Linked DNA regions of Homo sapiens: region 2 is linked to region 1. The links come from fine-mapping of genetic effects on gene expression. Tissue or cell type: breast. Region 1 holds a variant in brackets; the other region holds the start of a gene. All regions are shown on one strand. Distances are between the middles of the regions. Region 1 has its middle 16 kb from the start of GOLM1. Region 2 holds the start of LINC02893 (long intergenic non-protein coding RNA 2893).

Evidence for each region.
Region 2: LINC02893 starts here. The variant in region 1 is fine-mapped to the expression of LINC02893 in breast (GTEx, PIP 0.95).

The regions. Positions count from the first base shown.
Region 1 is chr9:86,109,853-86,121,650 of GRCh38, forward strand. No RefSeq gene overlaps it. Among named protein-coding and RNA genes, the nearest start is that of GOLM1, 16 kb to the left of the region's middle. The variant T/G (reference allele first, on the strand shown) is at 5,317.
Region 2 is chr9:87,037,431-87,049,228 of GRCh38, forward strand. It overlaps LINC02893 (long intergenic non-protein coding RNA 2893), which reads right to left and starts at 4,696. Exons shown (of 2, transcript NR_027471.1): 1 at 4,441-4,696.

The DNA of each region.
Region 1 (11,798 bases):
AGCAGTGGTTTCCAACTGAGGGTGATATTGTGTACCTAGAGAGCATTTGGAAATTTGGGGAGACTTTTTTTTTTGAGACAGAGTTTTGCTCTTGTCGCCCAGGCTGGAGTGCAATGGCATAATCTTGGCTCACGGCAACCTCCACCTCACATGTTCAAGCGATTTTCCTGCCTCAGCCTCCTGAGTAGCTGGAATCACAGGCGCCAGCCACCATGCCTGGCTAATTTTTGTATTTTTAGCAGAGATGGGGTTTCACCATGTTGATCAGGCTGGTCTCAAACTTCTGACCTCAGGTGATCCACCTGCCTCGGCCTCCCAAGGTGCTGGGATTACAGGTGTGGGCCACTGCGCCGTGCAGACTTTTGTGTTTTAACAGTGATTTGTGGGCATGAGGGTGAGGGAATGTGTGCTATTGACCTTTTTTCTTTTCTTTTTTCCTTTTATGAGACAGAGTCTTGCTCCATCGCCCAGGCTGGAGTGCAGTGGTGTGATCTCAGCTCACTACAACCTCCACCTCCCAGGTTCAAGCAATTCTCCTGCTTCAGCCTCCCAAGTAGCTGGGACTACGGGCGCACACCAACATGCCTGGCTAATTTTTTAAAAAGTATTTTCATATTTATTTTTATTTATTATAGTTTTTTTTTTTGAGACTCTGTCACCCAGGCTGGAGTGCAATGGTGCAATGGTGCGATCTCGGCTCAGTGCAACCTCCACCTCCCAGGTTCAAGTGATTCTCCTGCCTCAGCCTCCCTAGTAGCTGGGATTACACGCCTGTGCCACCACACCTGGCTAATTTTTGTATTTTTAGGAGAGACGGGTTGGTTTCACAGTGTTGGCCAGGCTGGTCTTGAACTCCTGACCTCAGGTGATCCACCCACCTTGGCCTCCCAAAGTGCTGGGATTACAGGCATGAGCCACCACGCCCAGCCTGCCATTGATTTAGTTCAGTGTCCTGCACAACAACAACAACAAAAATGCTTCTGTCTCTTCATATGAGTAGCACACTTACTGAGAAACACCAGATACAAGAGAGAATCTAATGTTTTAGTGAGTAGTAAAAGGATATTCAACTGGATCTGGGGAAGATCTCTTTTCTTTTTAGGGTTCTGCTCTTTAGGACATAAAGCCAAGACAAAGAGCTTTGGTTTGTATACCATTTTAGGATTAAGCTCAGCTGTCTCATCACCACAAGAAGCCAAAAATGATAGTGACTTAAGCCCGCAAAGTTTTATCTTCTCACAGAGTAAGTCTTTAGTGGGCAGTCTTGGGATGAAAGGGCAGGTCTGAAAGTCCACAGGGACTCAGGTTCCACTGCTCCATGGCTCCAGATACGGCCCTCATCCTTGTAATCCAAGACGGCTGGTGAGGCCGAAGCTGTCACTTCTATATTCCATTCAGCAGAAAGGAAAAAGAGCTTCTTCCCTTCCTTTAAGGCCACCTCTCAGAAGTTGCATATGACATTTCTGATTACTTTCCTTCTCCAGAACTTAGTCACATGTCCACATTTAGCTGCAAGGCATCTGGGAAATAGAGTCTCATATTGTGGGAAGCAATGTGCCCAGATAAAAACTTCCTAAGTAAGAAAGGAAGAAGAGATGTTTTGTGACAGCTACCATTCTCTGCCATTCTTAGTGAGGCAGGTTAATGGCAAGTGAAGCCCTAGTATCTTTTTTTTTTTTTTTGAGATGGAGTTCAGCTCTTGTTGCCCAGGCTGGTGTGCAATGGTGCAATCTCGGCTCAGTGCAACCTTTGCCTCCCAGGTTCAAGTGATTCTCCTGCCTCAGCCTCGCAAGTAGCTGGGATTACAGGTGCCCACCACCATGCCCGGTTAATTTTTTTTTTGTATTTTTAGTAGAGATGGGGTTTTACCATGTTGGCCAGGCTGGTCTCGAACTCCTGACCTCAGGTGATCCACCCACCCCAGCCTCCCAAGGTGCTGGAATTACAGGCGTGAGCCACCACACCTGGCCCCTAGTATCTTAGTAAAGCTGGAGTTTCAATGGTCCAGACTTCACTAAGGAGGGCAAGGGGAAAGTTGTGACTTGCTTTGGCCCCAAAACTCTTGGACACTCCTTCCATTGAGACTGGAGTCTGTGTCTCTTCCCCATGAATCTGGGTGGGAGCTTATGACTACTCCAATAGATGGACTACGGCAGATCTGAGGCCGAGGCTGGGTCACGAATCTGGGTGAGGGCTTATGACTACTCCAACAGATGAACTACAACAGATCTGAGGCCGAGGCTGGGTCATAAAAGGTAGCACAGCCTCCTCCTGGCTATCTCTTGGGAGGTTCCTGTTGCTGTGAGGAGACACCATGCTGTAAGGGAGCCCAGGCCACATGCAGAGGCCACGTGTAGTCGTCTGTCCACGAACCACAACTGTGGTCTCAGCCAACAGCTAGCATCACCTGCCAGACACGGAGACCTGTCAGCTCTGGAGTCACCACCCCCTGCCACTGAGTTTTCCATCTGACTGCAACTGCAGCAGATACCCTGAGCCAGAAGGGCCTGCTGCACTAGTCAGCACTCAGAACCAGAGGGAGGATAAGAAAATGACTGTTGTTTGAAGCCACTGGATATTGTGATGGTTTGTTATGCAGCAATGGATAACCAGAGCAGCCAGCAGGGCATTGATACTTTGGTAATTAGTTTTCGAGCACATTCCTGAGGGCAGTGAGTGGAAATCAGTCAGAAGGAGAGACGTCAGGGACACAGTGAATCAGGGGCCAAGGGGGAGGATGGAGATTGTGGGGGGCAGGAGGAGGTTGCATGGAAAGAGATGTAGCTATTTTCTTTGCCAAGGGCATCTTCCACCACCCACCTTGTTTTTCACATCGAATTTCTAAAAGAAACCACACTATGAGAACAAAAAAAATGGGGGGAATCAGGGAGCCAAAGCAAAGCGGGGAAAAAAAAGTTGTGTTAGGCCAGGCGCAGTGGCTCACGCCTGTAATCCCAGCATTTTGGGAGGCTGAGGCAGGCAGATCACCTGAGGTCAGGAGTTCGAGACCAGCCTGACCAACATGGAGAAACCCTGTCTCTACTAAAAATACGCACCAAGCATATGGTGGTGCATGCCTGTAATCTCAGCTAGTTGGGAGGCTGAGACAGAATCGCTTGAACCCAGGAGGCAGAGGTTGCAGTGAGCCGAGACCGTGCCATTGCACTCCAGCCTGGGCTACAAGAGTGAAACTTCATGTCAAAAAAAAAAAGTTGTGTTCGATGTGTCAAGGGTTTATGACTGGAAATAGAGAAAGGCAAGCATCCAAAAGTCTAAATTATATGCACTCCCGTCTTGCATTTTCATTCTAGGCAAAATCATAAAGGAGGAAACTCTGGTCTTTACATTAGGGCGCCTCTACTTCTGGTTTTGCCCCTGTCTACCACCTCAGCCTTCTGGAGACTCAGTTTCTGCCTTTGGAGGCATAGACACCACCATCACCAACCACCACCGCCACCACCACCACGGGTTTGTTAGCTAATGATTATGCAGCATTGATCTGTAAGCCTGAAGATGCAAACCCCTGACTTCAGTTATTTAGACACCCAGACCCTGGGTGTTTACAGTGGTGTAGGATGAGAGACAGTGACTTGCATGTGTACAGAGAATGCTGCTGCTTTCTTTTATGGAATAGAGCCCATCTTCCTCTTGAGTTTCCATGGAGAAATGGTGTGGAGTTGGGAAGAGAACCATAAAGTAGCCAGTTAATGCTGACTTCAGTCTCTTTTGGACAAATGCTCAGTTTTTCTGATTTCTTCCTTGATCCTCTGCTCTTTCTAGGAGAGTCTAGTGGAGACTAAAGTGATACCGTATTATAGGGAAGAATTTAACCTTGGATTCACCAGGCTGCCGGAAGGATTCATTCCTTCCTAACATGTTGCTTCCTTCCACTAAAGTGTCTTCGACTTCAGTCTTGAAAAGAGTTTTACCCTCCCATGTCACAGAATCCTAATGTTGCCACCCTAGGTATCACCTCACCCAACACTTTCTTTAAAAATTTTTTTATTATTATCTAATATGCTTTTTCATTGCCAGCCAGCATATTTATTTTTATTTTTTTATTTATTTTTTTGCCCCTGGCCTACCTTCCCAACCATGCAATGTAACAATCTAAACCAGATGATCTCAAGCTTTTAGTCTCAGGACCAACATTTTAAAATGAACACACTTAAAAATTATTGATGAGCCCAAAGAGTTTTTGATCATGTGAATCTATCAATATTTTAGGAATTAAAACTGAGGCCGGGTGCGGTGGCTCATGCCTGTAGTCCTAGCACTTTGGGAGGCTGAGGTGGGCGGATCACCTGAAGTTAAGAGTTCGAGACCAGCCTGGCCAACATGTTGAAACCCCATCTCTACTAAAAATACAAAAATTAACTGGGCATGGTGGCGCACACCTGTAATCCCAGCTGCTCAGGAGGCTGGGGCAGGAGAATCGCTTGAACCTAGGAGGAAGAGATTGCAGTGAGCCAAGATTGCACCACTGCACTCCAGCCTGAGCAACAGAGAGAGACACCATCTCAAAAACAAAACAAAACAAAACAAAAACAAAAACAAAAACAAAAACAAAAAAACTGAGAAAAATTTAAAATATTAATTTATTTAAAAGAGATACATCCATTACATGTTAACATAAATAATGTAATGCAACCCACAATGTGTGCAGGGATCATCTAGCCCTCTTTGCATTACCCTGCCAGAAATGGGGCTCAGAGAACGAGCACAAATGCTGATATTCTGGATACTGCTGTTGCTGTAGCAAACAGTCTTTTACGTCTGACCCAGGAGTCTCATGTCTTCTATCAGCATCCCTGAAACTGTCTCATGCTAATTTGTTACCCTTCCTGGTAGGGTAAAATCTCAGACGCTTCACAGTTCTTGATATAACACCTAACTGAAATTTAGCATTTCCTTCCATTTTAACGTAGGCAGCTGACCTTTTTCACAGTACTCATAACTTTGCAACCAATAGAAAACACAGGTATTTTCATAGCACTTTAGATTTGTGGCACATGTTTCAAAATAACACTTATGCATGTCAACAATTTGAAATAAAAAACTTAACCTTATTAATAATGTGTTAATAAAGAAGCACATATATTACGATATCACACATTTTTTTTTAATATATTGGCAATTTGTCTTTTAATATGACTGGTTTCCTTTTTATTTTTATGCATTTAAAATGAAGGGGCCTATAGACTCCACCAGCCTGCAAAAAGTAGCTTCAAATAAGCCCCTGATCTAGGCAGTCTGTGTGCATTGCATAAGGGCATGGATAGCACAGGGGAAAAACAGAAAGAAAAACAGGTTCAT[T/G]TATTGGTCTTTGAATTTTAAAAGCCGCAGTGCCAGAGGCGTGAGGGGGAAATGGAGGGATGCATACAGTTAGAAAAAGATTTGGAAGAAATAGGAACACTTTTACACTGTTGGTGGGACTGTAAACTAGTTCAACCATTGTGGAAGTCAGTGTGGCGATTCCTCAAGGATCTGGAACTAGAAATACCATTTGAACCAGCCATCCCATTACTGGGTATATACCCAAAGGATTATAAATCATGCTGCTATAAAGACAAATGCACATGTATGTTTATTGCGGCACTATTCACAATAGCAAAGACTTGGAACCAACCTAAATGTCCCTCAATGATAGACTGGATTAAGAAAATGTGGCACATATACACCATGGAATACTATGCAGCCATAAAAAAGGATGAGTTCGTGTCCTTTGTAGGGATATGAATGAAGCTGGAAATCATCATTCTCAGCAAACTATTGCAAGGACACAAAACCAAACACCGCAGGTTCTCACTCATAGGTGGGAATTGAACAATGAGAACACCTGGACACAGGAAGGGGAACACACCAGGGCCTGTTGTGGGGTGGGGGGAGCGGGGAGGGATAGCATTAGGAGATATACCTAATGTAAATGACGAGTTAACGGGTGCAGCACACCAACATGGCACATATATACATATGTAACAAACCTGCACCTTGTGCACATGTACCCTAAAACTTAAAGTATAAAAAAAAAAGATTTGGAAGAAATGCCTTGAAAGAATTCTAATCAAGACCAGCCAGCGGGAAAATCGAGACCACTCCCACCCCCCTACAAAACATTAGCTGGGCTTGGTGGCACACACCTGTAGTCTCAGCTGCTCCGGAGACTGGGGTGGGAGGATCCCTCGAGCCCGGCGTTGGAGGCTGCAGTGACTCTAGAAAGGATTCCCTGGGTTAGGGAGAGGACTGGACACAGGTCTTGTCAAGGCCTCCTCAGGGCCTGCGGCCCACCTTGTCACCATCTGAGTGGCCCCTGTGCTCGCCAAAACCACAGAACCTCTGTTTTCCCTCTCAGTATGGGTTACTTCCCTCTGCAGCCAAAAGGCCCCATGCACTGCGAAGGAGGATCATGCCAGTATCAGCCACCAAATTGTGTTTGGTCTCAAACAGCTCACTTCTCCCCGCTTTCCACAACCCCGGGTGCAGGGTGCTCTAAGCCCTTAGAGGGGTGATGATTGCCGAATAGAGGGTCCTCCCGACCTGTATACTGAGTCACTGCCATTTTGGGTGGGATTAGACAGAACCATCTCTAGATTTTCCTCCGCAATGAAAGAAAAACTCACTTCTGTCACACATAGGAGAGGAAAGTGATCTGGAGGCACGCAGTAATTTGATCAAGGGATACCATTCTCTATTTTTAATATCTATGAGCTCAGAAAGGGTTGCTCCTTTAGTGGCCTGAGGAAGCTGCCATCTGAGTCGTAGTGTGTGGGAGCTGCGCTGCCAGCCCCTCCGTGCTGCAGATTTCAGCGGCGTGCTCTCGTTGCTATGGTAATGAGCCGGGGAAGATTTTCAGGCTACCCAGGAAGAGCAGCCTTCTTACAAGAAAGGATCCATCAGGGATGCAGTTTGAAATTTGGGAACAGTCAGAGAAGAGGGACATGGAGTTTGAATTAAGGATGGAAAGAACACAAGAGTGGAGCCAGCCTAACCCGTGGAGGAGCTGGGGGGAGCAGAGGGGACAGTTTTGGGAGGCTGGGCCTGGTGGATCCTACCCTCACTGCCTTCCTGAAGAATGTCTGATGTTGCATCATTAATGTTTTATCTCTTTGAGTGTTTATGTAGTCCTCTCCCTAATATAGATATGTGTATTTGTAAGCAAACCTCTAGAGATAGAAAAAATATCAAGGTACTAATACTTTCTTTTTGGAGATGGAGTCTTGCTCTGTCACCTAGGGTGAAGTGCAGTGGTGCGATCTCAGCTTACTGCAACCTCCGCCTCCTGGGTTCGAGTGATTCTCCTGCCTCAGCCTCCCGAGTAGCTAGGATCACAGGTGCACGCCACCAAGCCCGGCTGATTTTTGTGATTTTAGTAGAGACGGGGTTCACCATGTTGGCCAGGCTGGTCTTAAACTGCTGGCCTCAACTGATCCACCTGCCTCGGCCTCCCAAAGTGCTGGGATTACAGGCGTGAGCCACAAGGTACCAATACTTATGATAATTAAAAAAAAAATTAAAGACCCTTTTTTTCCTCCATCAAAGTAGAGCATTGTTCACATATGGACAGCACGGCTGGCAAGGGGCCAAGGGAATTATGTGGGGTAAAGAAGGAAGAGGAGGGAGGGATGAGGGGAGGTAGGAAGGGGCTGATGAAGATGGACTGCTGCCAGGCAGAGTCCCAAGACCGTCTCTGTCCCTTTGAGGCCGTTCTCAGATGAGAAAACTCAAAAGGCAAGACCTTCAGTGATTGAGACCTCCTGAAGGACAGCTCCCAAAATGAGCATTTCCAAGGCCCCAGGTTAACATGATTCACTTCTCCTGCAGGTTAGGAACAGCCTGTTTTCTTTCAAGCCTGTCCTCATGCTTGAAGACATCAACACAGCTCAAATTAGGTATTTCTCCTGAAGATTCTTATCCACCAAGACCTCAAATTATGAAATCGGGCCCTAGTTAAATGAGGCGACTGTAATTCTAAGAGGCCATTGTAGCAGCGAAACAGCAAAAGAACTAACAGAACTCACTCCATTTTTGTTTATGGGGCCTTTACCCATTCTTGCATGTAGGCTAGGATAATTTTAGAGCACTGAGATAATATGTAAAAATAGCAATTGCAGGGTGGGTGCGGTGGCTCACGCCTGCAATCCTAGCAATTTGGGAAGCTGAGGCAGGTGGATTACCTGAGCTCAGGAGTTCAAGACCAGCCTGGGCAACACAGTAAAACCCCGTCTCTACTAAAATACAAAAAATTAGGCCAGGCGCGGTGGCTCACACCTGTAATCCCAGCACTTCAGGAGGCCGAGGCGGGTGGATCACTAGGTCAGGAGATTGAGACCATCCTGGCTTACACGGTGAAACCACGTCTCTACTGAAAATACAAAAAATTAGCCGGGCGTGGTGGCACGTGCCTGTAGTCCCAGCTACTCGGCAGGCTGAGGCAGGAGAATGGTGTGAGCCCTGGAGGCGGAGCTTGCAGTGAGCCAAGACCGCTCCACTGCACTCCAGCCTGGGCGACAGAGCAAGACTCCGTCTCAAAAAAAAAAAAAAAGAATTAGCTGGACATGGCAGCGTGCACCTGTAATCACAGCTACTCGAGAGGCTGAGGCAGGAGAATTGCTTGAACCCCCAGGAGGCAGAGGTTACAGTGAGATGAGATAGTACCACTGCACTCCAGCCTGGGCAACAGAGCAACACTCCATGTCAGAAAAAAAAGAGAGAAAGAGAGAAAGAGAGAGACAGAGAGGGAGGGAGGGAGAGAGGGAGGGAGGGGCGGAGGGAAGGAAAATAGATAAATGTATTTGTAGAAATCATTTAGAAAAATGGGAGTTTGAAGCCTATTCCACAGGTTCCTTGTTTATCCCAAGAGTTTGGTTTTAACCAGCCTTACCATTTTTACAATTTGCATTATTATCATTTAGAGATAAGTAATCATTGAAATGTTGTTTTCCAACTAGTTAAGGAAATCTTGTAATTCTTTATCTGGATTAGCTATAGTGATAACCAACGAAGCCAAAAACTAAAAGGTAAGAAAGAAACAGACAAGGAAGAAAGGAAAAATGAGGTCAAAATCAAGGTTCATATCCCCATAATCCCTTTCTTAATCATCAATGACAAAATAAGTTAAAAAATTAGACAAGGAAGTCTATCAATGGCAGCAGCGGCGTCTCTTCCATCCCTCTCTAGTTCTCAGCCCAGTGCCTGTGTAGTTTGCTGTCACATCCTGGAAGGGTTGGATAAATGATGAAAGCATAGCCATGTCTACATCCAGGGGCACTGCACGTAATAAGAAACTAAAGGCTCAAACTGAAGGAATGAAGATCTAACTTGGAATTTGGGGGGCATCCTGGGGGAAGAAGTGTGGAGGTAAGAGCCTCGTGATGAGTAGAAACCTACAGACTAGGTGGTTCCATCCAGATTAAGAGGAGACCACAGGCCTCCTGCGTAGACCCCTCTGAGTGGGCTTCCTGTTTTACAATGTACCCAAGATTTTCTTTATATTCAGGTATAGTGAGACCAACAGTTCAGGGGATGACTGCTATTGAAAGACAGTTTGTGACTCTTGGTTCTCGCAGAAGGCGGCAGGCCAGGCACTGCAGGGCCTCATGGGAAACAACAGGATTGGTCAGGAGACAGAGGGAGCAAGGGGAAAACCTGGGCAATAGTCTTTAGCGTGGTTTCCACAGAAAAGTCAATGCAAGGCACGGTAAGCACATTTAGGATTGTCTAGTTTGAGTACAGTGAGCTCTGGGTCCCAGGGGTTGTCCCTGGTTGCCTGGCACCTGGCTCTGGGGTGATTAGGGTAGGTGGATAGTGACCTAGAGTGTGAGAGCCAGATAGAGAAGGTTGTGGGGGTGTCGGTGGGTAACTGGCTTTGGATTGGTTGGTTTGCATACGAAAGGCACACTTTCATATGCAATACACAATTTCATATGCAATACACACTTTCATATGCAATACACACTTTCAATATGCAGTACACACTTTTGTACGCAGTGGCTCATGCCTGTATTTCCAGCACTTTGGGAGGCCAAGGCGGGCGGATCACGAGGTCAGGAGATCGAGACCATCCTGGCTAACACGATGAAACCCTGTCTGTACTAAAAATACAAAAGATTAGCTGGGTGTGGTGGCATGCACCTGTAGTCCCAGCTACTCGGGAGGCTGAGGCAGGAGAATCGCTTGAATCCAGAAGGCTGAGGTTGCAGTGAGCCGAGACCGCGCCATTGCACTCCAGCCTGGGTGACAGAGCAAGACTCTGTCTCAAAAAAAAAAAAAAAAAAAAAGACGAAGAAAGGCACACTCAGATCAAAAGGGAGTCATGTGCTATCTCTAGCAATCCAATCCTGAGAGGGTTGGACTCTACCTAGTCAGTAGTCTGGCCCCCAAATGCCAGAGCATCACAAGTACAGAAAATAAGGCTGGACGCAGTGGCTCATGCCTGTAATCCCAGCATTTTGGGAGGCCAAGGCAGGAGGAATGCTTGAACCCAGGAGTTGGAGACCAGCCTGGGCAACATGGCAAAACCTCATCTCTACAAAAAATACAAAAATGTGCCTGTAGGCCAGCTACTCAGGAGGCTGAGGTGGGAGGGTCGCTTGAGCCCAGGGAAGTTGAGGCTGCAGTGAACCATGTCATTGTACTCCAGCCTGGGCGACAGAGTGAGACCTTGTCTCAAAAACAAAAAACAAGGAAAAAAAAAAGAATACAGAGAATGAGAAGAAATGGTTAATAAACACACCAGCAGTCACTGTGTGCTCTGTGTTGTCCTGTGTGCCTCCTAAGCACATGCTGTTGAAATCTCCCAGCTCATTTCCTTCGACAATTTCAATAGTGCCTGTACCTGTTGTAGATTTTGAGCTAAAATTAGGTTTGTAGTCATCCAATTTGAGAATAACATGTCTTCAGTGGGAAATTTGAAACAATGCTCTGGAAACCAAAAAATTCTACTTATCGAAATTTAAGTCATATAATGTGAAGCCTAGCCTGGGAACTAAAGCTTGCTTTGTGACTTACTCTTTTTGTTTATAAAACACAACCAAGAACAGTTTTCATTTTCAATGCAATGTTGCATTTTTAAAAATGACAGATCATGTTCTTAGAATTAAAAGGTCACTTAATCATGCTTCATCTTTTTTTTTTCTTTGAGACAGAGTCACTGTGTCGCCCAGGCTGGAGTGCAGTGGTGCGATCTCGGTTCACTGTAACCCCTGCCTCCCGGGTTCAAGCGATTCTCCTACCTCAGCCTCCTGAGTAGCTGGGATTATAGGTGCACACCACCATGCCTGGCTAATTTTTTGTATTTTTAGTAGAGACGGCATTTCGCCATGTTGACCAGGCTGGTCTCAAACTCCTGACCTCAAGTGATCTGCTGACCTCGTCCTCCCAAAGTGCTGGGATTACAGGCGTGACCACCGTGCCCAGCCCATGCTTTATCTTTTAATAAATTGTTTATTAATATGTACTTCCATTAGTTTACTAGAGCTGCCATAACAAAGTACTACAGACTGGGTGACTTAAACAACAGAAATTTATTTTCCCAGAGTTCTGGAAGCTGGAAGTCTACGATCAAGGTGTAAGCAGGGTTGGTTTATCCTGAGGCCTCTCCTTGGCTTGGAGATGGCTGTCTTCTCCCTGTGTGTCCACATGCTTTCCCTCTGTGCATGTCTGTGTCCAGATTTCCCCGGCTTATATCATATTTGATAAGCACCCGCTCATATGACCTCATTTTACCATAACCACCTCTTTAAAATCCCCACCTCCAAATACAGTCACATTCTGAGGTACAGGGGGTAAGGACTTCAACA
Region 2 (11,798 bases), 930 kb after region 1:
AGGTTGTGTACTCAGAGCAGTACCCTCCCATACGTGCATATTTATTTATAAATTCTGTATACATCCTACTGCACTAACACAAAAGTGAAACACAAAAGAGGGAAAATTGACATAGAAAATCATATTTCTTTGTTCATTCAGTTGGAGCATCTTGCTATCCCCTGGGTACGCACACTCACCTTAGTGATAGAATTAGAAACTAGTGATGGAGAGAATTTTGAAATACATTTTTCTTGACAAAAGTGATCACATTTCTAAGAGTAGACCTTGGTGTTTTGATGATTTTTTTGCGTTCCAAGACATAGAACAGCTATAATATGTTAAGAGCTGATAGCAAAGACAAGAAAAACAAGCCTTGAATATAATTGTTTTATGCAATCAATACGGTGACACAGTCACTCTGCACCCTTTGGGGCTTATTTGAGCAGTCCTATGTGCCAGGTGCTAAGCTAGCACTCACAATGTTTTATCTTATTTAATACTCACACAGCCCTCTGAGGTAAGTGATTATTGTTGCTGTTTTATAGCAGAGAGAATGGAGACTCAGTACGTTTCTTATTTAGTTAGTTGGTTAGATGGGGTGTAAACGTCATATCGGCCTATTTAAAAAGCCTTTGTCCTTAATGACTGCTATTTATTGCCTCATCAAATAATAATCATTTTCAAAATTTTACTATTTATTTATTCTGTAATGACATCACACTGATGGAAAAATCCCTCTGGTTATAGTGAATGGGTTTGACATACTTCACCCAAACTGCTTCATCCTACCAAGAAGTTGCCAATGAAGGTAACTAGGCCTCTGTGCTGAGAGAGACTGTCATCTAATTTCAACAATATTGTTGGTTTCTAAGAGATTGCTTACTAGCCATAATGTACTAAGAATTCTCATTCATCTGAATAGTTATGTGCTCAAAACCTTCTTATTACTAAAACTCAGTCAGAGATGACAAGGTGAGCCAACTGCCTAAGACTATTTCTATGTAAGAAGGACCTGATTTGTAAGGCAAATAGCTTTACTTGCTTTGCAAGGTTTTCTACAGATCCAAATCAGCCATAGAGAGCCTATCCATATACCTCATTCAGAAGTGAAAGGTTCAAATACAAACACTGACATTTATGTGACAAGGAAGGCCTTAGAGTTATAAACCATGGTTCCACAGTTTAGGAGAGAAGACTATTAGCACATTTTAAAAACTTTTATTTCAAAATAAATGATGCATCAATGTAAGTGCGTGGCAATTATAACCAGTGCATTGATATTCAGACTGAGGATTCTCTCAATAAAACTTGGCCAGTTAATCATGAACTATAAATCAAGAGTAAGAGAATATGTTCAATGAAGAATATTGGGAATAGGAGTGCAGATAAATCTAAAAACAATGAGACCAGAAAATAGGGTGATGAGATCCATATTTTGAATAAAAAATAAGACATATTGTGACAGATATTTCTGCTTTCAAACATTCTTTTTGTCAGGTTGTCCTGGAAAACTTAGGGCAATGATTTCTGTCACTTCAGACATTACTCCTACTTAAACTGTGGTACATTTCACCATTATTGTTTTTTTTTCTCCTGTGCTGTTTTACTTTCCCAATATTTTACCAGTGTCTTTTGGAGTCATTTTCAAAGTAAATAACCAACCTGCCACCCTTCATTTTATTTAATATGCCTTTTAAATACAAAATTCATACTGTATATGGCCTCCTCATTTATATAATTATCCTACCTCAATTATATTGAGATAGGATTTCTTTTTCAAAATATTTTAGTAGAGTTTATGACCTCAAAAATGCTGTCAAAGATATAAAAGCAGGTTATAAGAGCAGGAAATATTCTTATAGAAAACTGTTATATTAAGAACAAGATGCTCTTAATTAGTAAACACATAATAGTAGATGTTTTTGCATTTTTTGCATAAATCAAACATTTAACTACACTACCTTCATAAAATATTTGAGAGTCAAAAAGTAGCCAATTTTCTGATAAGTTGCATGAAAGTAATTACTTAACAGCAATACAGAAACAGTCACCAGCCACGATTAAATGCTATGCCTTGCTTAATAAATGAAAACATAAGTACATACATAGAGACAAAACTTCTACCCTTAAGATCATTATACTACATGACAATTTTGGTACAAAATTCAGGCTTTTTTTTGTTTTATACTTTTGTTTTCAATGAAATTGTCAGTATTCTTTTGGCCACTTATAAATTCTTTTAATAAGTGAGTGTCTCTAATGTTTATTATTATGATTAAGAAGACAATTACTTCTCTAACTTTAAAAATTTTTTTTATTAATGATCTAACAAAAAAAGATGGATTCAGAAAGAAAACTTCAGTAGAGATCAATGTCTAAATGTCACCTGTGCTATAAGTAGAAAAATACTTTTTGATTGTCCAGCATCCCAAATGTCCTTTTTCTTTTTAGGAGAAATCCCTTATTGTATGTGCTGCTGTGGTAATTCTATGCTCTGTATCTCTGTTTGAATTATCTCAGAAGCAAACTGAGAGACAATAAGTTACTTGCAAGGAGTTTACTTTGAAAATGACTCCAAAAGACACTGGTAAAATGGCAGGAAAGTAAAACAGCAAAGGAGAAAAAAACAACAAATGCTGCATTATCAAGCGAGTCATCACTGTAGGCAACAGGAGCTTAATCCTTATGAGAAACTCTGGGAAACAGCCTATAACACAACTCTCAGGGTTTCCACACCAGAAGGATGAGGAAGCTGGGGAACTTAAACATTAACACTGTGATGGTTAATGTTACATGTCAACTTGACTAGACTATGGTGCCCACATGTTTGGTTAAACACCAGTCTAGATATTGCTGTGCAGGTATATTTTTAGATATGACTAATGTTTAAATCACTAGATTTTGAATACAGCAGATTACCCTCCATAATGTCACTGGGCTTTACCCAGTGAGTTGCTAAGGACTTAAGAGAAATTGACTGCCTGCAGACTGCTTCCAGGCTCAAGCTGAAATGTCAGCTCTATCCTGGATCTCCAGCCTGCCCCACAGATTTCGGATTTGTGAAATCCTGTGAACCAACTTACTAAAATATCTCTTCTCTCTGTCTGTCTCTGTCTTCACATACACACACACACACACACACACACAGCCTTTTGGTTTGGCTTCTCTGGATAGCCCTGACTAATACAAATACCCTTGGTTGAGGGCTCCCTCAGGCTAAGGGGTGCAGGTGCTGACAATAGAAAGTGTGGAGGCTTGCAGTGAAATGAGAGGAGGGAATAGTGGCAGGCCACCAATAGTGGCTGTTATACTTTGCCTACCACTGCTGAAGACCAAAAGGGATGAGCCAAAACAATCAGCGGCTAGGGACAGTGGCTTCCAGGGAGTCAGTGGTGGAGTCTATTTATGCAGGAGTCTTATGTCAATAGCAGTGTCTTGGTCTGACCAGGCCTCTTACAAAGTGATTGGGTCCTTGGACTCCCAGAGCAGCCTCATTCTCACCTATTCCTTAATTTCTATTTGCTAGTTTCCTATCAGTTCTATGAGCTATCAGTTGCCTTCCAATGAATTCCAGTCTTTAAAACTAATGACCAGAAACTATGGTTGTTCATTGCAGTAGGGAACTTTGGTATTTATGCTTTTCTAAAACATTTTGATCATTCATTACTGCTCCTAGCTCATATTTAACGCATTCACTTTCGATTTTTAGAGTCTGAATGTTTTAGCCTAGATTATCTTATTTAGGCATAAATCGTTATGTTTAGTAATTTTTTTGAGATATAGGACAGAAACAGATACTAATGTACATTTTATCAGGAAGTGGCAACACTTTAAACCATGGCAGTAAACATGGCAGTGTGTTCGTTTGTTCACTCAATTACAATTTGTTAAAGCATTACTACAGTAATGAGTATTTGGAATATGACAGCGAATTACACCAAGTCCTTGTCCTTACAAAGTTTAGTTTAGAGTGGAAAAAGATTTAAAAAATGATGAAAACAATAACAACAACAAAAACCACAGCATTCTACCATCAGGGAAGAGAGCATAATTTTAAAGGGTTGAATGAAACATTAATTAAACAAATGAGGTATTTCAGCAGAGATGAATAGCATTTTTTACAGTCTCAATTGAGACACTAGAAATTAAAAAACAAATCAGAGTTTTTTGTAAAAAAAGTTTTTTTCTAGGGCCCATGCACAGACTGTACGTTGCCAAGAGGGCAAACATCAGTAAATTTGAAAATAGTTTGAGAGAAATTATTCAAACTGAAACAAACCCAGGAAAAAAGAACTTTATAAACATGAAAGACGAAGAAACGAAGAGGAAAGGAAGAGGAAAAAGAAAAAGGATACGAAGTGCAAGTATACTTCAGGATCAAACTGCTGAAAATCAAAGATAAAAAGGAAATATTAAAGGTAGCCAGAGAAACGCAACAGGAAGAAAGAAAAGAATTACCATAGAGGGAACGGAGGAGCCAAGATGGCCGAATAAGCTCCGGTCTACAGCTCCCAGCGTGAGCGACGCAGAAGACGGGTGATTTCTGCATTTCCATCTGAGGTACCGGGTTCATCTCACTAGGGAGTGCCAGACAGTGGGCGCAGGTCAGTGGGTGCGCGCACCGTGCGCGAGCTGAAGCAGGGCGAGGCATTGCCTCACTCGGGAAGAGCAAGGGGTCAGGGAGTTCCCTTTCCTAGTCAGAGAAAGGGGTGACAGACAACACCTGGAAAATCAGGCCACTCCCACCCGAATACTGCGCTTTTCCGACTGGCTTAAAAAACGGCGCACCACGAGATTATATCCGGCACCTGGCTCGGAGGGTCCTACAACCACGGAGTCTCGCTGATTGCTAGCACAGCAGTCTGAGATCAAACTGCAAGACAGCAGCGAGGCTGGGGGAGGGGCGCCCGCCATTGCCCAGGCTTGCTTAGGTAAACAAAGCAGCCGGGAAGCTCGAACTGGGTGGAGCCCACCACAGCTCAAGGAGGCCTGCCTGCCTCTGTAGGCTCCACCTCTGGGGGCAGGGCACAGACAAACAAAAAGACAGCAGTAACCTCTGCAGACTTAAATGTCCCTGTCTGACAGCTTTGAAGAGAGCAGTGGTCCTCCCAGCACGCAGCTGGAGATCTGAGAAGGGGCAGACTGCCTCCTCAAGTGGGTGCCTGACCCCTGACCCCCGAGCAGCCTAACTGGGAGGCACCCCCCAACAGGGGCACACTGACACCTCACATGGCAGGGTACTCCCACAGACCCGCAGCTGAGGGTACTGTCTGTTAGAAGGAAAACTAACAAACAGAAAAGACATCCACACCAAAAACCCATCTGTACATCACCATCATCAAAGACCAAAAGTAGATAAAACCACAAAGATGGGGAAAAAACAGAACAGAAAAACTGGAAACTCTAAAAAGCAGAGCACCTCTCCTCCTCCAAAGGAACGCAGTTCCTCACCAGCAATGGAACAAAGCTGGACGGAGAATGACTTTGACGAGCTGAGAGAAGAAGGCTTCAGACGATCAAATTACTCTGAGCTACGGGAGGACATTCAAACCAAAGGCAAAGAAGTTGAAAACTTTGAAAAAAATTTAGAAGAATGTATAACTAGAATAACCAATACAGAGAAGTGCTTAAAGGAGCTGATGGAGCTGAAAACCAAGGCTCGAGAACTACGTGAAGAATGCAGAAGCCTCAGGAGCCGATACGATCAACTGGAAGAAAGGGTATCAGCGATGGGAGATGAAATGAATGAAATGAAGCAAGAAGGGAAGTTTAGAGAAAAAAGAATGAAAAGAAATGAGCAAAGCCTCCAAGAAATATGGGACTATGTGAAAAGACCAAATCTACGTCTGATTGGTGTACCTGAAAGTGATGGGGAGAATGGAACCAAGTTGGAAAACACTCTGCAGGATATTATCCAGGAGAACTTCCCCAATCTAGCAAGGCAGGCCAACGTTCAGATTCAGGAAATACAGAGAACGCCACAAAGATACTCCTCTAGAAGAGCAACTCCAAGACACATAATTGTCAGATTCACCAAAGTTGAAATGAAGGAAAAAATGTTAAGGGCAGCCAGAGAGAAAGGTCGGGTTACCCTCAAAGGGAAGCCCATCAGACTAACAGCGGATCTTTCGCCAGAAACCCTACAAGCCAGAAGAGAGTGGGGGCCGATATTCAACATTCTTAAAGAAAACAATTTTCAACCCAGAATTTCATATCCAGCCAAACTAAGCTTCATAAGAGAAGGAGAAATAAAATACTTTACAGACAAGCAAATGCTGAGAGATTTTGTCACCACCAGGCCTGCCCTAAAAGAGCTCCTGAAGGAAGCGCTAAACATGGAAAGGAACAACCGGTACCAGCTGCTGCAAAATCATGCCAAAATGTAAAGACCATCGAGACTAGGAAGAAACTGCATCAACTAACGAGCAAAATAACCAGCTAACATCATAATGACAGAATCAAATTCACACATAACAATATTAACTTTAAATGTAAATGGACTAAATGCTCCAATTAAAAGACACAGACTGGCAAATTGGATAAAGAGTCAAAACCCATCAGTGTGCTGTATTCAGGAAACCCATCTCACGTGCAGAGACACACATAGGCTCAAAATAAAAGGGTGGAGGAAAATCTACCAAGCAAATGGAAAACAAAAAAAGGCAGGGGTTGCAATCCTAGTCTCTGATAAAACAGACTTTAAACCAACAAAGATCAAAAGAGACAAAGAAGGCCATTACATAATGGTAAAGGGATCAATTCAACAAGAAGAGCTAACTATACTAAATATATATGCACCCAACACAGGAGCACCCAGATTCATAAAGCAAGTCCTGAGTGACCTACAAAGAGACTTAGACTCCCACACATTAATAATGGGAGACTTTAACACCCCACTGTCAACATTAGACAGATCAACGAGACAGAAAGTCAACAAGGATACCCAGGAATTGCACTCAGCCCTGCACCAAGCTGTCCTAATAGACATCTACAGAACTCTCCACCCCAAATCAACAGAATATACATTTTTTTCAGCACCACACCGCACCTATTCCAAAATTGACCACATACTTGGAAGTAAAGCTCTCCTCAGCAAATGTAAAAGAACAGAAATTATAACAAACTATCTCTCAGACCACAGTGCAATCAAACTAGAACTCAGGATTAAGAATCTCACTCAAAACTGCTCAACTACATGGAAACTGAACAACCTGCTCCTGAATGACTACTGGGTACATAACGAAATGAAGGCAGAAATAAATATGTTCTTTGAAACCAATGAGAACAAAGACACAACATACCAGAATCTCTGGGACACATTCAAAGCAGTGTGTAGAGGGAAATTTATAGCACTAAATGCCCACAAGAGAAAGCAGGAAAGATCCAAAATTGACACCCTAACGTCACAATTAAAAGAACTAGAAAAGCAAGAGCAAACACATTCAAAAGCTAGCAGAAGGCAAGAAATAACTAAAATCAGAGCAGAACTGAAGGAAATAGAGATACAAAAAACCCTTCAAAAAATTAATGAATCCAGGAGCTGGTTTTTTGAAAGGATCAACAAAATAGATACACCGCTAGCAAGACTAATAAAGAAAAAAAGAGAGAAGAATCAAATAGACGCAATAAAAAATGATAAAGGGGATATCACCACCGATCCCACAGAAATACAAACTACCATCAGAGAATACTACAAGCACCTCTACGCAAATAAACTAGAAAATCTAGAAGAAATGGATAAATTCCTCGACACATACACTCTCCCAAGACTAAACCAGAAAGAAGTTGAATCTCTGAATAGACCAATAACAGGATCTGAAATTGTGGCAATAATCAATAGCTTACCAACCAAAAAGAGTCCAGGACCAGATGGATTCACAGCTGAATTCTACCAGAAGTACAAGGAGGAACTGGTACCATTCCTTCTGAAACTATTCCAATCAATAGAAAAAGAGGGAATACTCCCTAACTCATTTTATGAGGCCAGCATCATTCTGATACCAAAGCCAGGCAGACACACAACCAAAAAAGAGAATTTTAGACCAATATCCTTGATGAACATTGATGCAAAAATCCTCAGTAAAATACTGGCAAACCGAATCCAGCAGCACATCAAAAAGCTTATCCACCATGATCAAGTGGGCTTCATCCCTGGGATTCAAGGCTGGTTCAATATACACAAATCAATAAATGTAATCCAGCATATAAACAGAGCCAAAGACAAAAATCACATGATTATCTCAATAGATGCAGAAAAGGCCTTTGACAAAATTCAACAACCCTTCATGCTAAAAACTCTCAATAAATTAGGTATTGATGGGACATATTTCAAAATAATAAGAGCTATCTGTGACAAACCCACAGCCAATATCATACTGAATGGGCAAAAACTGGAAGCATTCCCTTTGAAAACTGGCACAAGACAGGGATGCCCTCTCTCACCACTCCTATTCAACATAGTGTTGGAAGTTCTGGCCGGGCAATTAGGCAGGAGAAGGAAATAAAGGGTATTCAATTAGGAAAAGAGGAAGTCAAATTGTCCCTGTTTGCAGGCGACATGATTGTATATCTAGAAAACCCCATTGTCTCAGCCCAAAATCTCCTTAAGCTGATAAGCAACTTCAGCAAAGTCTCAGGATACAAAATCAATGTACAAAAATCACAAGTATTCTTATACACCAATAACAGACAAACAGAGAGCCAAATCATGAGTGAACTCCCATTCACAATTGCTTCAAAGAGAATAAAATACCTAGGAATCCAACTTACAAGGGATGTAAAGGACCTCTTCAAGGAGAACTACAAACCACTGCTCAACAAAATAAAAGAGGATACAAACAAATGGAAGAACATTCCATGCTCATGGGTAGGAAGAATCAATATCGTGAAAATGGCCATACTGCCCAAGGTAATTTACATATTCAATGCCATCCCCATCAAGCTACCAATGACTTTCTTCACACAATTGGAAAAAACTACTTTAAAGTTCATATGGAACCAAAAAAGAGCCCGCATCGCCAAGTCAATCCTAAGCCAAAAGAACAAAGCTGGAGGCATCACACTACCTGACTTCAAACTATACTACAAGGCTACAGTAACCAAAACAGCATGGTACTGGTACCAAAACAGAGATATAGATCAATGGAACAGAACAGAGCCCTCAGAAATAACGCCGCATATCTACAACTATCTGATCTTTCACAAACCTGACAAAAACAAGCAATAGGGAAAGGATGCCCTATTTAATAAATGGTGCTGGGAAAATTGGCTACCCATATGTAGAAAGCTGAAACTGGATCCCTTCCTTACACCTTATATAAAAATCAATTCAAGATGGATTAAAGACTTAAATGTTAGACCTAAAACCATAAAAACCCTAGAAGAAAACCTAGGCATTACCATTCAGGACATAGGCATGGGCAAGGACTTCGTGTCTAAAACACCAAAAGCAATGGCAACAGAAGACAAAATTGACAAATGGGATCTAATTAAACTAAAGAGCTTCTGCACAGCAAAAGAAACTACCATCAGAGTGAACAGGCAACCTACAAAATGGGAGAAAACTTTCACAACCTACTCATCTGACAAAGGGCTAATATCCAGAAACTACAATGAACTCAAACAAATTTACAAGAAAAAAACAAACAACCCCATCAAAGAGTGGGCGAAGGACATGAACAGACACTTCTCAAAAGAAGACATTTATGCAGCCAAAAAACACATGAAAAAATGCTCATCATCACTGGCCATCAGAGAAATGCAAATCAAAACCACAATGAGATACCATCTCACACCAGTTAGAATGGCAATCATTAAAAAGTCAGGAAACAACAGGTGCTGGAGAGGAGGTGGAGAAATAGGAACACTTTTACACTGTTGGTGGGACTGTAAACTAGTTCAACCATTGTGGAAGTCAGTGTGGTGATTCCTCAGGGATCTAGAACTAGAAATACCATTTGACCCAGCCATCCCATTACTGGGTATATACCCAAAGGACTATAAATCATGCTGCTGTAAAGACACATGCACATGTATGTTTATTGCGGCATTATTCACAATAGCAAAGACTTGGAACCAACCCAAATGTCCAACAATGATAGACTGGATTAAGAAAATGTGGCACATATACACCATGGAATACTATGCAGCCATAAAAAATGATGAGTTCATGTCCTTTGTAGGGACATGGATGAAATTGGAAATCATCATTCTCAGTAAACTATCGCAAGAACAAAAAACCAAACACCGCATGTTCTCACTCATAGGTGAGAATTGAACAATGAGATCACATGGACACAGGAAGGGGAACATCACACTCTGGGGACTGTTGTGGGGGAGGGGGGAAGGATAGCATTGGGAGATATACCTAATGCTAGATGACAAGTTAATGGGTGCAGTGCACCAGCATTGCACATGTATACATATGTAACTAACCCGCACAATGTGCACATGTACCCTAAAACTTAAAGTATAATAATAAAAGAAAAAAAAATTAAAAAAAGAATCACCATAGACTTCATATTGTAAATTATGCAAGCTGAAAGACAATGCGTAGATGTCTAAAATAAACAAAAACTTTCAACCCAGAATGTTATACCCAGCAATAACATCTTTCGACTATGAAGGTGAAATAAAGACTTTTTCAGCAAACAAAAGCTAAGATAAATCAGTTCTGGCAACCTGAATTATAAGAAATGTTAAGCAATGTTTTTCAGACAGAAGGAATATGATACCTCATACAAATATGAATCTAAACAAAGAAAGGAAGAGTGCTGAAAATGATTGAAAATGAGGGCAAATAATAAAGAAATATTTTCTTACTTTTAATCCCTTTATACAATAATTTATTATCTAAGGCAAAAATAATAACCATGTATTATGGTATTTAGAACATACATAGGCATTAAGAATAAAATGTGTAGTAAAAAATTGAACAGATGCTAGGAGGTTAAACCTGGAAGTACTCAATTAGGAGACTCTCAGACTATACTTGAGATTCTATAATACTTTTGAAGGTAAGAAGTAATATATTAAAGATATAAATTGTAAAACTTAGAGCAACCACTAAAAAGATAAATATTCCATTAATCCAAAAGAAGGCAAAAAAGACTTTGAGAGGAAAAAAAGAATATATAGGACATAAAAACAAATATAATGATAGATCTAAATCTAATCCTATCAATGATGACACTAAATGAAAATGATCTAAAACCATTTAAAAGGCAGGAAATAGCAGAGGTGACAAAAGAAAAATAGCTGAATTGGAATTTATCAAAATCAAAAACTCCTATGCTTCAACTAACACCATCAAGAATGTGAAAAAACAACATACAGAATGGGAGAAAATATTTGCAAATTATATTTTTGATAAAGATCCTGTATCTAGAATATATAAAGAGCTTTTAGAACTTAACAATTTAAAAAGACAGATGACTCAATTTTTAAAAGGGAGAAAGGGCTTGAATAGAAATTTTTCCAAAGATAATATACAAATGACCAAGAAGCACATGAAAATGTGTTCAATATCAGTCATTGGGGAAATGAAATAAAAACCATAATGAGATATTACTTCACACCCACTAGGATGGCTATAATAAAAAAAGATAGTGCTGACAAGCATATGGAGAAATTGGAACCCTCATATACTGCTGGTGAGAATGGAAAATGACACAGCCACTCTGAAAAACAGTTTGGAAATTTCCCAAAATATTAAACAAAGAGTTATCATATAACCCACCCGTTCTGCTCTTAAGTATATACCCAAGAAACTGAAAATATGTGTCCACCCAAACGCTTACACACAAATGTTCTTGGTA